Linked DNA regions of Homo sapiens: region 1 is linked to region 2. Evidence: fine-mapped QTL for protein levels in blood plasma. Region 2 holds a variant in brackets. A gene starts in the other region. All regions are shown on their forward strands. Region 1 holds the start of HYAL1 (hyaluronidase 1). Region 2 has its middle 12 kb from the start of OR10P1.

What was found. PIP is the posterior inclusion probability: the model's chance that the variant is causal. Protein levels are from antibody-based Olink assays in UK Biobank. Linkage for the fine-mapping came from a reference panel and not from the study's own genotypes, which makes the PIPs less certain.
Region 1: it holds the start of HYAL1, and the variant in region 2 is fine-mapped to the plasma level of the HYAL1 protein (UK Biobank, PIP above 0.99).

The regions. Positions count from the first base shown.
Region 1 is chr3:50,302,890-50,308,206 of GRCh38, forward strand. It overlaps HYAL1 (hyaluronidase 1), which reads right to left and starts at 685. Exons shown (of 4, transcript NM_033159.4): 1 at 577-685; 2 at 1-91. The coding sequence starts at 67. RefSeq lists enhancers at 169-1,103, 921-1,090.
Region 2 is chr12:55,645,852-55,651,221 of GRCh38, forward strand. It overlaps the pseudogene OR10AE3P. Among named protein-coding and RNA genes, the nearest start is that of OR10P1, 12 kb to the left of the region's middle. RefSeq lists an enhancer at 326-785. The variant G/A (reference allele first, on the strand shown) is at 3,168.

The sequences.
Region 1 (5,317 bases), not on the chromosome of region 2:
TAAAGCCTTGGGCCATATCGAGTAAGGTCAGGAAGAGGGCGCAGATGGGAAGCAGGTGGGCTGCCATGGCACGGGACTGGTCGAGGACAACCTGGCCAGGGGAGGCAGAGCTGAGAACAGGTTGCAAAGTCTCCGATTCCCCCACTGCTCAGGGCTGGGGGGCTGAGCCCTTGCGCATTAATCCACCGCTGCTCTGGTTTCTGTTAAACATTGACCTGCAGGGCTCCAGGAGGGCAGGGGAGACGCATGGAGGGGAGCATGGCCACTGGAGGGCACATCCGAGTTGCCTCTCAGACCAGGCCTCTGCCATCTCCCACAGGACTTGCTCTAGCCTAAGCTCGCCCACCCCTGCTTCCCCATGAGCCACTGAGGCCATGACATATGTTCTGGGAAGAGTGGCTGACAGCCAGGCCCTCAGCCCCCAGGCTGACCCGACCAAGGGGGGGAGGCCTTCCTGTCTCTTCCACCAGAAATCCTGGCAGCCACTGGAGGAAGATCCAATGGCCTCAGTGACCAAGGACAGGTCAACCCAGCCCTCCTGTACACCCGCCAGTCTGCCCGCTCGTCCCTGCTGACCTTGGGGCTGAAGGGCCTTATCCTCCAAATTTCCTGACCCCAGGATGGGGGCCTAAGCAGGGCCTGGCCAGATTCCACCCCAGCTGCACCAGAGACTCCTGGAGGAAGGAGCCGCTGCTGGAAATTCTGAGCTTTTGTAGGGGGTCACCCCACCCAGGCCAGGGGCGGGCCAAGGGGCGGGCCTTGGATTAGGAGGCCAGGCCAGCCAGGCATCAGGGCTACCTCTGAATCCCTGGCAAAGGGATCTTGGTTGGGGGTGGGGCTGGGCCAACAGTGGCCCCTCCCACGCTGTCAGCACTAGGGCAGGGCTTTGTGGCCTTACCTAGGCTGGAGGAGGTGGGCAGGGGCAGACCCTGCTGGGCAGGCCTGTTTGTGACACTGGAGACCGGGTTCTTTCGTGTCTTGTGCTCAGGGAGTGTTCTTTGTCCACGTGGCTGCATCTGACATTGATGGGCCCTAGGCACTTTACTTTCGTGGATCTTTTCCTCCTTAAAAAAAATATTTTAAAATATGGCCAGGCATGCCAGGTGCGGAGGCTCACGCCTATAATCCTAGCACTTTGGGAAGCCGAGGTGGCAGATCACGAGGTCAGGAGATCGAGACCATCCCGGCTAACATGGTGAAACCCCTTCTCTACTAAAAATACAAAAAATTAGCCGGGCGTGGTGGCAGGCGCCTGTAATCCCAGCTACTCGGGAGGCTGAGGCAGGACAATCCCTTGAACCCGGGAGGCAGAGGTTGCAGTGAGCCAAGACTGCTCCACTGTGCTACTATACTCCAGCCTGGGTGACAGAGAGCGACTCCATCTCAAAAAAAAAAAAAAAAAAAAAAATATATATATATATATATATATATATATATATATATATATATGGCTATAGTCTTAGCACTTTGGGAGGCTGAGGTGGGAGAATTGCTTGAGCCCAGGAGTTCGAGACCAGCCTAGGCAATGTAGCAAGACCCCATCTCTACAAAAAAATTAAAAATTAGCTGGGCATGGTGGTATGTACCTGTAGTCCCAGCTACTTGGGACACTGAGGCAGGAGGAGTGCTTGAGCCCAGGAGGTCATGTCTGGGTTACACTATTATATATTAATTATTAATATATTTACATTTATATTCTTCTTCTGATTAAAAAAACATTTTGTGGGCCCCTGAAAGTACTGTGGCCCTAGGCCTTGGGTCTATTGTGCTTAGTGGATAAGTCATCCCTGTTGTAGGGACCTGTTTCTGAAAGGCACTGTGTTCATGAAGTCAGGGCTGTGTCATCACCCTTTGTATATGTGCTGGGTTAGTGACTGTGTCTTTGTGAAGCCCCATTTAGTGACCATCTGAGCCTCTGCACAAATTCCAGTGGCAAGTAGGTGTGAGTGTGGAACCCAGTGCCTGGGACTGGGTGTGTGTGAGCCCTGCTGTCTTGTGAGCATGAGATCCTGTGTTTGTGTGACCATGCATATGAGCTGTCAGTGAGCACATGCTTGTTCATTCATTTGTGGTTTCACTTGTTCAATATGTGAAAGGAAAATATCTTGGGCCCCTTCAAGCTGGGAACCGCTCAGGACAAATCTGCCTCCCATTCTATTCAAGTCATCCTTTTGCTTACAGACATAGATGCATATTATGATTGCCTCCATTGCCTCTTTTGGAAAGACTACCAGAAACTCAAAAGAATGCAACCATCTGTCTGTCACCTGCCTGTGACCTGGAAGCCCCCAGTGGGGGGCCGTGCTTTGAGCTGTCTCCACCTCTCTGGACAGAGCTTATGTACTTCTGTTTTTTTTTTATTTTTATTTTTTGAGACGGAGTCTCGCTCTGTCGCCCAGGCTGGAGTGCAGTGGTGCGATCTCAGCTCACTGCAAGCTCTGCCCCCCGGGTTCATGCCATTCTCCTGCCTCAGCCTCCCGAGTAGCTGGGACTACAGGCGCCCGCCACCACGCCTGGCTAATTTTTTGTATTTTTAGTAGAGACGAGGTTTCACCGTGTTAGCCAGGATGGTCTCGATCTCCTGACCTTGTGATCTGCCTGCCTCAGCTTCCCAAAGTGCTGGGATTACAGGTGTGAGCCACCGCGCCTGGCCTAATTTTTTTTTAGATGAAGTCTCACTCTGTCGCCCAGGCTGGAGTGCAATGGCATGATCTCGGCTCACTGCAACCTCTGGCTCCCGGGTTCAAGCGATTCTCCTGCCTCAGCCTCCAGAGTAGCTGGGACTACAGGCGCGTGCCACCACACCCAGCTAATTTTTATATGTTTAGTAGAGACAGGGTTTCACCATATTGGCCAGGCTGGTCTTGAACTCCTGACCTTGTGATCTGCCCACCTTGGCCTCCCAAAGTGCTGGGATTACAGGCTTGAGCCACCACGCTTGGCTAAGGTACTTCTTACGTATTGATAGATGTCTCATATCTCCCTAAAATGTATAAAACCAAGCTGTGCCCGGAACACCTTGGGCACATGTCATCAGGACTTCCTGAGGCTGTGTCTTGGATGCATCTTCAACCTCAGCAAAATAAACTTTTTAAATTAACTGAGAGCTGTCTCAGATTTTCTGGGTTCACATTTGGTAACTATGGATGGATTCTGTGTGGAGATGTCCTTGACTTTTGACTAATTGCCTATCTGTGCTTGGTACCAGCAGGAGCTAACTTTATGGCTCAAACCAATAGGACAATTTGCTGAGGTCTGGGAGCACCCCCTCCAGAGAATCCTTGATTTCTCAATTGGTTGAGATCTAAAGTTTATTTTGCTGTACAACTCTTTTTTTTTTTTTTTTTTTTTTTGGAGTTTTACTTGCTCCCAAAAGGAAAGCAAGTTTTTCTGCTTCCATGACGATGGAAGGCAGGTAACTCCTTTATGGAGTTTGAGCTCGCTTCCAACAGGGAAAATTAGTTTTTTTTTCCTGCTTCTGGGATGGTAGAGAGCAGTCTACAGCCTGAGACCCATCACTAGGTAAGAAACTGGCTTGGGATTCTGCCTTGCAATTTCCTTTAAATGACTAAAGTTAGCATTTAACAACCAGCTGGTGTTAACTTCTGCTTACACTTACAGCACTCAGAAATCATATACTTTGTGTGATCATTGTTACTTTAGCAGCATTTTGTTCTAGCTGAAATATGGTAATAAGATTAAAAAAATTTTTTTTGGCTGGGAGTGGTGGCTCACACCCGTAATCCCAACACTTTGGGAGGCCGAGGTGGGCGGGTCACCTGAGGTCGGGAGTTTGAGACCAGCTTGGCCAACATGGTGAAACCTATCTCTACTAAAAATACAAAAATTAGCCCGGCATGGTGGTGGGTGCCTGTAATCCCAGCTACTCAGGAGGCTGAGGCAGGAGAATTGCTTCAACCTGGGAGGTGGGGGTTGCAGTGAGCCGAGATCATGCTACTGTTACTCCAGCCTCAGTGACAGAGCAAGACTCCATCTCAACAACAACAACAACAACAACAAAAACACAAAAATTATCCAGGCATGGTGGCCCACACCTATAATCCCAGCTATTCAGGAGGCTGAGGCAGGAGAATCACTTAAACTTGGAAGGCGGAGGTTGCAGTGAGCTGAGATTGCGCCACTGCCCTCTAGCCTGGGTGACAGAGCAAGACTCTGCTAAAAAAAAAAAAAAATAAGCCGGGTGCAGTGGCTCACACATAATCCTAGCACTTTGGGAGACTGAGGCAGGAGGATCATTTGAGGTCAGGAGTTTGAAACCAACCTGGCCAACATGGCGAAACCCTGTTTCTACTAAAAATACAAAAATTAGCCAGGCTTAGTGGTGTGTGCCTATAATCCCAGCTACTTGGGAGGCTGAGGCAGGAGAATCGCTTGACCTGGGAGGCAGAGGTTGCAATGAGCTGAGATCATGCCACTGCACTCCAGCCTGGGTGACAGCAAGACTCAGTCTCAAGAAAAAAATAAAAAATAAAAAATAAACCAAAATAGGGCCGGACGCAGTGGCTCACGCTTGTAATCCCAGCACTTTGGGAGGCCGAGGCGGGCGGATCACAAGGTCAGGAGATCAAGACCATCCTGGCTAACATGGTGATACCCTGTCTCTACTAAAAATACAAAAAATTAAGCTGGGCGTGGTGGTGGGCGCCTGTAGTCCCAGCTACTCGGGAGGCTGAGGCAGGAGAATGGCGTGAACCCGGGAGGCGGAGCTTGCAGTGAGCGGAGATCATGCCACTGCACTCCAGCCTGGGTGACAGAGCAAGACTCCATCTGAAAAAAAAAAAAAAAAAAAAAAAACCCAAAATAAATAAAAAGGAGGGATGTTCAGAACAAATTGGAAAGTCCAACCATGTCATGAACAGTCAGTGTAAGTCACAAAAAACCCAAAAACTTTTTTTTTTTTTTTGAGACGGAGTCTCGCTCTATCACCCAGGCTGGAGTGCAGTGGCGCAATCTCGGCTCACTGCAAGCTTGCCTCCCGGGTTCACGCCATTCTCCTGCCTCAGCCTTCTGAGTAGCTGGGACTACAGGGGCCCGCCATCATGCCTGGCTAATTTTTTTGTGTTTTTAGTAGAGACAGGGTTTCACCATGTTAGCCAGGATGGTCTTGATCTCCTGACCTCGTGATCCACCTGCCTCGGCCTCCAGAAGTGCTGAGATTACAGGTGTGAGCCACCGTGCCCGGCCAAAAACCCAAAAACTTTTATATAATCAAGTTGTCGTATACTTTTTTCTTCAGGGTAGAGTCTTGCTTTGTTGCCCAGGCTGAAGTGCAGTGGTGCAATCTTGGCTCACTGCA
Region 2 (5,370 bases):
CTAATGATCAGCGATGTTGAGCTTTTTTTCATAAGCTTGTTGACTGCATGTATGTCTTCTTTTGAAAAGTGTCTATTCATGTCTTTTGCCCACTTTTTAGTAGGATTGTTTGGTTTTTTTTCTTATAAATTTAAGTTCTTTTTTTTTTTGAGATGGAGTCTCACTCTGTTGCCCAGGCTGGAGTGCAGTGGTGCAATCTCGGCTCACTGCAAGCTCCGCCTCCCGGGTTCTCACCATTCTCCTGCCTCAGCCTCCCGAAGTTCTTTATATATGTTGGATATTAGACCTTTGTCAGATGCATAGTTTGCAAAAGTTAAGAAAATCAGTGTTATTTTAAAGGTCTCAGCACAGGCCGAGAATCCAGCCGGAAGTAGCGGGTGGTGCTGCGCCGCAGAAGGGCAAGGTGAAGGCGAAGCGGGCTCGGAAGACTAGGGCTCCTCAGGTAGTAGAATGCAGCGGCCGGCAGATGGCGTCACAGCGGCGGAGGCCATGGCCCTGCGCAAGCGCATTCGGCGATGCCAGGGAGGGCGAAGAAACCCAGCAGCGGGAAGCCGCCTACCGGTGGGCTAGTGCGGCGGGGGAAGGGAATCGGCCTGCATCCGAGACTCCGCCGCTGTGGCGTGGGACCTCCCCTAAGGAGAAGTGGTGCAGGAGGAAGTGCGTGGGCCAGCGCAGGCAGAGGCTGCCAGGGCGAGGACGACGATCAGGGAGTTGTCCAGCAGGGTCACCAGATGTTTGCAGAGCACTGCCCAAAACAGAAGGCCCCGGACGGAACCAAAACCTGAGAGCACCAACAAAACAAGCTCAGTCATGCTGTGCCATTGCCACCGCCATGTCCCCAAGGCCAGACTGGAGGACGGGGCCAGAGGAGGGCTCGTGCTGCCCCAGGAAGCATCCAGGCAAAGACAAAGGCCGCAGCAGGAAAGCTGTGGGAGAGGCCACAGGAACAGCCCAGCTCTCCTTCCCGCCCAGAAAACTCCTCTGAACAGGAAGATTAGCCAGGGGAGTTGAGGGAAAATGGCAGGACCTTCCTCAAGGCTGGGGACTTAACGGACACCAGGGTGGTTCCACTCACCCGAGTTCTGGGCTCTAGGAGCAAAGAGCTGGGACCAGCGGGACAGCTGCCTTTGAGAAAGTGGTTGAGAATATGGGCAGAAAAGTGGGTGAGCAGACAGAATAAAGCTGACAGGAGATCAGAAGAAAAATGGATCCACCATGAGGTGCAGAGTGAGTGGGAGTGAGAGCAAGAGTGAGAGAGAAGACAGGATCAAAGACCACGGATAAAGGCCTGGTGGGGCTTTACCTTCAGATGGGGCCCCTCCTGGGCAGCCCTCGCAGCACCTCAATCTCCCCAAGAGCCTAGTTCGCAGAGCAGAGAGTGGGGAGGGAAAGTAGGCAAGGCAAGATGAAGAAGGGGGAATAAAGTTTTGCCCAGGGACCAGGGAAAAGGAAGTGACTTTCTCCTGCCTCATCACTGTGCCTAAGCTCCTAGGTCTAGAGTCTCCATCCCAAACAGTGGAGAGACTACATGAGGAGGGGGCTGGGATTTATTTGCGGTCCGTCAGCAAGGCCTGAATGAAGCTGGGCTCAGAAACCAAGTGTTTCAATGCCTTGGCCGATTTCTATCTGCTAAACTGCCCAGTCCATTGCCCAAAGGGCTGCCTTCTGCCTTTGTGGCCCATGCGTAGAATTATTCCCTAGCTTAGCTGCCTTCTTCTTTTATATATATATAATTTTTTTTATGAGACTCTCTGACACCCAGGTTGGAGTGCAGTAACACAAACACAGCTCACTGCAACCTGAAACTCCTGGGCTTAAGCGATCCTCCCACTTCAGCCTCCCAAGTAGCTGACACTACAGCACACACAACCACATCTGGCTAATTCTGGAAAGCACTTTTTTTTTTAATTTTTTTAGTATTTATTGATCATTCTTGGGTGTTTCTCGGAGAGGGGGATTTGGCAGGGTCATAGGACAATAGTGGAGGGAAGGTCAGCAGATAAACATGTGAATAAACGTCTCTGGTTTTCCTAGGCAGAGGGCCCTGCGGCCTTCTGCAGTGCTTGTATCCCTGGGTACTTGAGATTAGGGAGTGGTGATGACTCTTAAGGAGCATGCTGCCTTCAAGCATCTGTTTAGCAAAGCACATCTTGCACCGCCCTTAATCCATTTAACCCTTAGTGGACACAGCACATGTTTCAGAGAGCACGGGGTTGGGGGTAAGGTTATAGATTAACAGCATCCCAAGGCAGAAGAATTTTTCTTAGTACAGAACAAAATGGAGTCTCCTATGTCTACTTCTTTCTACACAGACACAGTAACAATCTGATCTCTCTTTCTTTTCCCCACATTTCCCCCTTTTCTATTCGACAAAACCGCCATCGTCATCATGGCCCATTCTCAATGAGCTGTTGGGTACACCTCCCAGACGGGGTGGCGGCAGGGCAGAGGCACACCCCACCTCCCAGACGGGGCGGCGGCTGGGCGGGGGCTGCCCCCCACCTCCCCGACGGGGCGGCTGCCGGGCGGAGACGCTCCTCACTTCCCAGACTGGGCGGCTGCCGGGCGGAGGGGCTCCTCACTTCTCAGAGGGGGTGGCCGGTCAGAGACGCTCCTCACCTCCCAGACGGGGTGGCGGTGGGGCAGAGACACTCCTCAGTTCCCAGACGGGGTCGAGGCCTGGCAGAGGTGCTCTTCACATCTCAGATGGGGCGGCGGGGCAGAGGCGCTGCCCACATCCCAGACAATGGGCGGCCGGGCAGAGACGCTCCTCACTTCCTAGACGGGATGACGGCCGGGAAGAGGCGCTCCTCACTTCCCAGACTGGGTGGCCCGGCAGAGGGGCTCCTCACATCCCAGACGATGGGCGGCCAGGCAGAGACGCTCCTCACTTCCTAGATGGGGTGGCGGCCGGGCAGAGGCTGCAATCTCGGCACTTTGGGAGGCCAAGGCAGGCAGCTGGGAGGTGGAGGTTGTAGCGAGCCGAGATCACGCCACTGCACTCCAGCCTGGGCAACGTTGAGCACTGAGTGAGCGAGACTCTGTCTGCAATCCCGGCTCCTCGGGAGGCCGAGGCTGGCAGATCATTCGTGGTCAGGAGCTGGAGACCAGCCCGGCCAACACGGTGAAATCCCGTCTCCACCAAAAAATACGAAAACCAGTCAGGC[G/A]TGGCGGCGCGCGCCTGCAATCCCAGGCACTCAGCAGGCTGAGGCAGGAGAATCAGGCAGGGAGGTTGCAGTGAGTCGAGATGGCGGCAGTACAGTCCAGCCTCGGCTCGGCATCAGAGAGAGACCGTGCAGAGAGGGAGAGGGGTGAGGGGACAGGGGAGAGGGGAGAGGACTTTTTAAAAATCCTTTTGTAAAACAGTGCTAATCTTCAAAGAAAACCACTGAATGAGAAACAGGCCTGACTTGTGGGAGAACTTCGCAACCCAGCTGAGGGGTTCAGCCCACTCCCTAGCTGCTGCAAAAGATTTCAATATTGTCTGTCCTTTAGAAATAGGAAACATTTTCTTAGATCTGAGTTGGGGCAAATGACATCTACTGCAGCAGGGGATGACAGAGGTGACACAAAAGAAAGTATTTCTCAAGCACTAATGGCTCAATGAATAAAAAATTGTAGGTCCTTAATATGTGATATGGTTTGGCTGTGTCCCCACCCAAATCTCATCTTGAATTGTGGTTCCCATAATCTCCACGTGTGGTGGGAGGGACCCAATGGGAAGTAATTGAATCATGGAGGTGGTTTCCCTCATGCTGTTCTCATGATAGTAAGTTCTCACAAGATCTGATGGTTTTATAAGGGGCTTCCCAATTCACTCGGTTCTCATTCTCTCTCCTGCCACCATGTGAAGAAGGATGTGTTTGTTTCCCCTTCTGCCATGATTGTAAGTTTCCTGAGGCCTCCCCAGTCATGCCGAACTGTGAGTCAAACCTCTTTCCTTTATAAATTACCCAGTCTTGGATATGTCTTTATTAGCAGTGTGAGAACAGACTAATACAGTAAATTGGTACCACACAGAGTGGAGCACTGCTGTAAAGATACCCAAAAATGTGGAAGCAATTTTGGAACTGGGTAACAGGCAGAGGTTGGAGCAGTTTGGAGGGCTCAGAAGAAAAATGGAAAATGTGGGAAAGTCTGGAACTTCCTAGAGACTTGCAGAATGGCTTTGACCAAAATGCTGATAGTGATATGAACAATTAAGTCCAGGCTGAGGTGGTCTCAGATGGTGATATGGTTTTGTTCCTGGACCAAACTGAGGGTCGAGCTGCTATTTCTCGTGGCCCAATAATGAGATGCAGAGGAACTGGGGAGCAAGAGAGTTTTTATTTCTGTAGCCAGCTACTGGGAGAAGGCCTGGAAATTATCACCAGACCAACTCAAAATTACAAAGTTTTCCAGAGCTTACATGCCTTCTAAGCTGTATGTCTACATGTAAGTGTATATTTATCTAAACACATAAGTGATTAACTTCTTTTAATCTATAACTAAGATCTGAGTCCTGAAGACCTTTCTCTGGAGCCTCAGTAAATTTACTTAATCTAAATGGGTCAAGGTGCTGGGGTGATTACCCTTATCTTGTCTCCCACTAAATCATGGAGGTTTGGGGAGTTCCTTCAGACCCCCAATAAACTTGTTTGTGGAGGCCTGGGGAGTTTCTTCAGACCCACAATAAAACTTGTTTAATCCTAAATGGGTCCTGTTAAGAATTCCTGTTATTTTGTCATGCATTAAGGCCCAAGAAAGGCGTAGGCAAAACTCTTGACGGGCTACTGTTACATCCCAGCCTTTGTATAAGGGCACTGGCTTTTAATATTTAACTTAACCACTCAGTCAGTACTGAAACAGTTGTTATGGAGGCCTGCATTAGTGAGACCTGGCCTGCCACAGTTTGGCTGTGTCCCCACCCAATCTCATTTTGAATTGTAGTTCCCATAATCCCCACATGTTGTGGGAGGGACCTGGGGGGAAGTAATTGAAACACGAGGGCAGTTACCCCCATGCTGCTGTTCTCATGATAGTGAGTGAGTTCTCACAAGATGTGATGGTTTTATAAGTGGCTCTTCCCCCTTTTGCTCATCACTTCTCCTTTCTGCCATCATGTAAAGAAGGACATGTTTGCTTCCCCTTCCACCATGATTATAAGTTTCCTGAGGCCTCCCCAGCCACGTGGAACTGTGAGTCAATTAAACCTCTCTCCTTTATAAATTACCCAGTCTTAGTCATTTATAGCAGCATGAGAACAGACTAATACAGATGGAGATAAGGAACTTGTTGGGAACCCGGAGTAAAGGGCACTCTTGCTTTGCAAACAGACTGGCGGCATTTTGCTGTGGAACTTTGAACTAGAGAGAGATGTTTTAGGGTACC